2 separate regions of the Homo sapiens genome follow, and region 1 is linked to region 2. The links come from fine-mapping of genetic effects on gene expression. A gene starts in region 2. The other region holds a variant in brackets. All regions are shown on one strand. Distances are from middle to middle. Region 1 has its middle 71 kb from the start of ADAMTS15. Region 2 holds the start of ADAMTS15 (ADAM metallopeptidase with thrombospondin type 1 motif 15).

Evidence for each region. PIP is the estimated chance that this variant, and not a neighbour inherited with it, causes the effect.
Region 1: its variant is fine-mapped to the expression of ADAMTS15 in pancreas (GTEx, PIP above 0.99).

What each region holds. Positions count from the first base shown.
Region 1 is chr11:130,518,607-130,521,513 of GRCh38, reverse strand. No RefSeq gene overlaps it. Among named protein-coding and RNA genes, the nearest start is that of ADAMTS15, 71 kb to the right of the region's middle. RefSeq lists an enhancer at 1,125-1,626. The variant C/T (reference allele first, on the strand shown) is at 1,130.
Region 2 is chr11:130,447,454-130,450,360 of GRCh38, reverse strand. ADAMTS15 (ADAM metallopeptidase with thrombospondin type 1 motif 15) reads right to left here and starts at 1,716. Exons shown (of 8, transcript NM_139055.4): 1 at 431-1,716. The coding sequence starts at 1,387.

The DNA of each region.
Region 1 (2,907 bases), 71 kb before region 2:
GTACTGTATATATAATGTATATCTTACGTATGTCTCTCCAAGTGCTTTGCCATTGTCCTTGTTAGGGTTTGGATTTATGTCCCCACCCAAATCTCATGCTGAATTGTAATCCCCAGTGTTGGAGGAGGGGCCTCGTGGGAGGTAATTAGGTCATGGGGGCAGACTTCCCCTTTACTGTTCTCCTGATAGTGAGTTCTCACAAGATCTGGTTGTTTAAAAGTGGGTGCCACTTCCCACTTCACACTCTTCCTCCTTCTGGCCATATAAGACATGCCTGCTCCCTCTTCACCTCCTGCCATGATTGTAAGTTTCCTGAGGCCTCCCCAGCCATGCTTCTCATACAGCCCACAGAACCATGAGCCAATTAAACCTCTTTTCTTTATAAATTACCCAGTCTCAGGTAGTCCTTTATAGCCATGTGAGAATTTTATATATATATATATATATATACACCATTTATATATATACCATATATATATATATGTATATATACACATACACACACACACATATATATACACATATATATAGCTCCAAGGATATTATATCAATAGTATATAAACTATTGATTTTTTCAGCATGAATAAATGAAGATGCTATCATATCATATGATCATCTGTCTATTTGTCTGCATTCTCCACTAGACAGTGAGCTCTTTTAGAGCAGGGATCATGACTTCTATTTTACATATCTCTTAAGTCAGTGTTTAGGATACAGCAGACACTCAAAAACTAACTGATGAATGAATAAATACCAAAATTCTGGGTCACCCTACCCAGCACATATACAATCAACTGAGGCAGAAAAGTCCAACTCACCACTCACCCCTCCCCAGTCTTTTTAATTTCCCAGCAGAATCCCAAGTGGAACGTTCCAGGAGAGGCCTGGCTTTAATTTTAAGAGATAAAGACAGCCAAGTGCTGGATAAATGCCTTATCCTGGTTTTCAAACCCTTTTCTCCTTATTCCCCAAGACTCCCACGTCTGCCTTCCTCCCTGACGCCTCCCAGGCAACACCCAAGCTGTCCTGTGCTCCACCCCGAGTAGCCCTCCTTTCCCACACAGCTTGTGACACCACTGCCCACCCCCAGGGATACAGAGGAAACCAGCCACCTCCAAGGCCAGGCAGG[C/T]GGTGCCATTCCCACAGCCATCACCCATAATCCTTCAACACCAACCAGCTCCGCTGGAAGCAGCCCAAAGGCCTCTAATGCTGAGAGTGACATCCAAACCAGAGCTTTCCGTGAGTGTGAGGCTGGAAAGACCACACACAGAAGACGTGCACAGGCCTCCACCCAGGCCTCACACAGACACCCAGATCGCTACACCTCACACACCATGATACACACAACAGTCCCTCTCGGGATATCCTGCCGCCTCCACCCCAGACAAAAACAATGCTGTTAAGTACATGGCCCACTTAACAGTCTTTTTCTGAGCCTGCAGAACCTTCCATCCACTCACCATCACATTCAGATGCGTTGTGCTATAGCAGAAGGGAGAGACCAGGCCTCACACAGACACCCAGATCGCTACACCTCACACACCATGATACACACAACAGTCCCTCTCGGGGTATCCTGCTGCCTCCACCCCAGACAAAAACAATGCTGTTAAGTACATGGCCCACTTAACAGTCTTTTTCTGAGCCTGCAGAACCTTCCATCCACTCGCCATCACACTCAGACGCGTTGTGCTATAGCAGAAGGGAGAGACCGGAGCCTAAAGCAGGAATGTGACCTTCAGGTTGCATAACCCCCTGGAAAGATGGGGAAACCCAAGTGCACGCTAAATGTCAAGTACTATCTATTCTAGGAATTTTAGGAAGAAAAAAAAAACAAAAACAAAAACAAAACAGAAAAAAAAACCCACTAATATCCCTCCTTTTTTGGCAAGAAGAATGAGGTCTGTGATGCCAGCAATTCTGGCCGTGTGCTTGGTGGAGATTCCACGGTCCGCTCTCAGCCCCAGGTTCACCCTGAGCGGCTCCACCTTGGTTTGTTTTATGTACAAACTAAGTAAACTTTAGTTTGAAGGAAGAATGCCATAGCTAAAAACATGTTCATGCAGTTCCCATATCTCCACTTCTACCCAAACTTGGAGGTTCAACCTGTATGAAGCTTTGGCCCCACCTCTTCCCCTCCCCTTCAGCCTTCTCTGCACTCTTACACATACTCACACATGTCGTTCCTTCTAAGCCATGGCTTGTTGTTCTTGGCTAGGAAAGGGCTACTTGCAGATACCAGGCCTGAATGGCAAAGAAGGCCAAGGTGGCCACCAGCCTTTGCTCTGGGGCCAATATTTTGTCTGGCAAGGATGTTTATACTCCCAGCATCAAGCTCCAGAATGCCGAAACACAGCTTTCTGCTACCTCCTTGGACCCTGGGGTCCCCTAATCCTTTGGGTTTCTGCAAACCCAGAACTCTGTGTTGGGAAACATGGGGTAGAGGATAGGAGAGATGTGATCTTGAAGCTATTGCTGGGAAATAGAAGAATTTGTGGAAAATCACTCAGCTGTTCTCTAGTTTGTCTTCCCACAAAAACTTGGTTCTAGGAGGAGGCCGTTTCTGACGTTCTTTAAGTTATCCATAGATATCACTATATGCATGACCCAGCCCTGGGCACTAAGAGGAGAACAAAAAGAAAGATTTCCTGTCTATAAGGAACCAACTATTCTATCTATAAGAATCCAACCATCCAATGGAGAGAGAAGACATAGCCCAGTGGGATCTTCCTGCCTATCACACAGACAAAACCAATTCACCAAAACCATGGCATTGCAATAAAGAAAGAGTTTAACTGATGCAAGACCAGCCATACCACGTGGGAGACAGAATTATTACTGAAATCAATCTCCCTGGAAGTTCCAAGGTTAGGAGTTGGGCAAGGGATAGCTTGGTGGGCAGGGGGC
Region 2 (2,907 bases):
AAGGAGACCTCAGGAGGTGTCCGAGAAGACTCAGCCGCCCATACAATAGGGGTGGGCCGTTCCCGCCCTCTCCAACACCATCCTCACGGCGTCTCCTATCGGTCTTGGACACAAACTGCAGCTCCGGGGCGGCAACTTCCTGGGTTCCGGCCCCTCGGCGCCTGATCCAGGAGGCGCTGATTGGCCGCGCCAGGCCAACACCTTCGGAAAGCGCAGGCTCTCCTCCAATGGCCCAGATGCACGTGAGCCGCCGCTCCGCGGAGCGTGGGAGAGGGCTCTCCCTGGAAACTCCACAGAGTTGGAGTCGGAAGAGATCAACGAGGTTTAAACTCGGAGGCATTGCACGATACAAAGGGGATTTGGAGCGCTAGGGGAGGTGACCCTAAAGAACGGGACTATCTGGGTGCAAAGTGACGGCAGATCAACTCACCTGCCTGGTGAAGAGGATGGCAGTGTCCCAGTACTCGGGGTGCTTGTCACTCACTTTGTTCAGCTTCTTCTGCCAGGCACAGAAGTTGCGCAGCGTCAGGGCCGCATTGCCGGTGACCTTGGGCCCGGAGTCACGATCTCTAAGAAGCAGCACCTTGACCACAACGATGTTGATGGGGTTGAGGATGCTGGGATGGCGGTAGAGTCGCGCCGCCGTTGCCAGCAGCGTCAGCAGATAATGTTCCAGGTCCGCGCCGTGGAACTTGACCATTGACTCGTCCGCGACCACCAGCGTCTCCACGTACCGCGGGATAGACACGAAACGCTTGGCGCGCCCAGACCTGCGCCGGCTACGACTCTCCCCGAAGCCCGCCCGCCGCGGCTTGTAAGGGTCCAGGGCCCGTAGGATGGCGGGGTTCCAGCCCGAGGCCACCCCGCAGCGAGAGGTGGGGTCTCCGGAAGGCCCGCCCGGAACACCCCGGCGCTGGAGAAGGTGTGCGCCCTGGCTGTTGCGCTGCGCCGCCGGCGCGCTAGCATTGGGCAGCGGGCTAATGACATACTCGGCGCCTCGGTAGCCAAAGGCTCCGCGGAGCCCCCCGCACAGGCTCACAGCAGCGAACGAGTCCGGCTCGGCGTTCACGTCCCCAGAATAGAAGCAGCGTCGCAGGTCTGAAGAGCCCCCGGTGAGCCCCTGGAGGGGGACGCCCAGATGCTCAGTGGAGAAGGCGGGAGCCAAGAACTGAGCATCCGGCGTCAGGTGTAGGTAAAAGTCCTCCTGAAATGCTGTGATCTGAAAAATGAGTCCCTGATCCCCGGAGTCCTCGGGACCCCGCCAGTAGTAGCGGCGGCCGTTAATGTCCGGGTCCAGTCGGATGGGAACGACTACCTCCCGCTCTGGCTCAGAGCCTCCAGCGGTTCGCCCGGCGAAAGCCAGGGTTAGGATGCCCAGCAGAAGCATGGCGCCGGGCAGCGCACCGCCGCGCTGTGGGAAGGGGCTGGGCCGGGCTCTCCGGCCGCTGCCGCGGTCTCCGTGCAGCCCGCACTCTGGAACCGCCAACGCTACGGGACAGCCGGCAGTTCCCAGAAAGGAGAGCCAAGGGAGGGAGACTCCTCCCAGGGCGGCGAGCGTGCACCCGGCAGCCCGCGCTTCCTACCTGTGCCTTTCCAAGCAAAGCGCGCCCTGGGAGCTTAAGTACAATCGCTGTCAAGTGCAAGGACGAAGATTTGCAGCCGAGAACTAGCGGAAGGTGCCGGGCGGCTTCTCGCAACCGCAGCCACTCGCAGCGCAGCAAGCCAGGCGCTGGGCGAGCCTATTAAAGGCCCCCTCCTCTTTGGACGGCCCAGTCAGCGCCCCTCCCCTCACTCCCCTCCCAGCCTCCCAGAGCTCGCTGCCGGAGCCTCCAGGGGCCACCGGAGAACTCGGTCCCGCCTCCAGAGCGGAGAGCCACTTGGCGGGGAGGGAGTGGCATTGAGCTGAGGCAGGAGGCGTGGGCTGGCCCGAGAAACCGGCGCTGAAGTCTCAGTTTGCGTTTTGCTCTTGGTTATGCCCCACTGTCCCGACGCCTCACTCGCTTCTGCCCCCGCGGACAGCGTTCACTCTCTGGGTCTTAGTCTTTTATCTCAGGGCAGATCAGGTCAGCAGCTAGGAATGAAGACCCTTCACTGACCCGTCCCCAGGCCCACCTCATCCCTGCTGTTGCAACATCCCTGCTGTTTCTTAATCACAGAGTCCCCTAAAAGACCCAGAATCAAGAACCACCCCCCCCCCCGCGTAAATGTCCTATTGCCAGAAGAGCAATAGGACAGGGGCATGGGAGCCCTCTGGAACCCAAGACCGCCTAGCCCCAAGGTCTGCCCTGGGCCCATGGTGTGCTGGATGGGCTGGGGCAAACTCTTCAGTTCTCAGGAATCTTGCCAGCCAGCTGTTAATCACGGACATTATTAAAAATTAAACTAAACACACTTACAATTAAACAAAGTGTATATATATATATGCACACACACACACATACATATATATACACATACATATATATATATACATACACACACACACACACACACACACATATATATATATATTTTTTTTTTTTTGAGACGGAGTTTTGCTCTTGTTGCCCAGGCTGGAGTGCAATGACGCGATCTCAGCTCACCGCAAACTCCGCCTTCCGGGTTCAAGCCATTCTCCTGTCTCAGCCTCCCAAGTAGCTGGAATTACAGGCATGCACCACCACGCCCAGCTAATTTTGTATTTTTAGTAAAGACAGGGTTTCTCCATGTTGGTCAGGCTGGTCTCGAACTACCGACCTCGGGTGATCCTCCTACCTTGGTTTCCTACCTCCTACCTTGGTCTCCTGAGTAACTGCGACCACAGACACACGACACCACGCTAGGCCAATTTGTGTGTGTGTGTGTGTGTGTGTGTGTGTGTGTGTGTGTGTGTGTGTATTTTTGGTAGAGACTGGGTTTCGCCGTGTT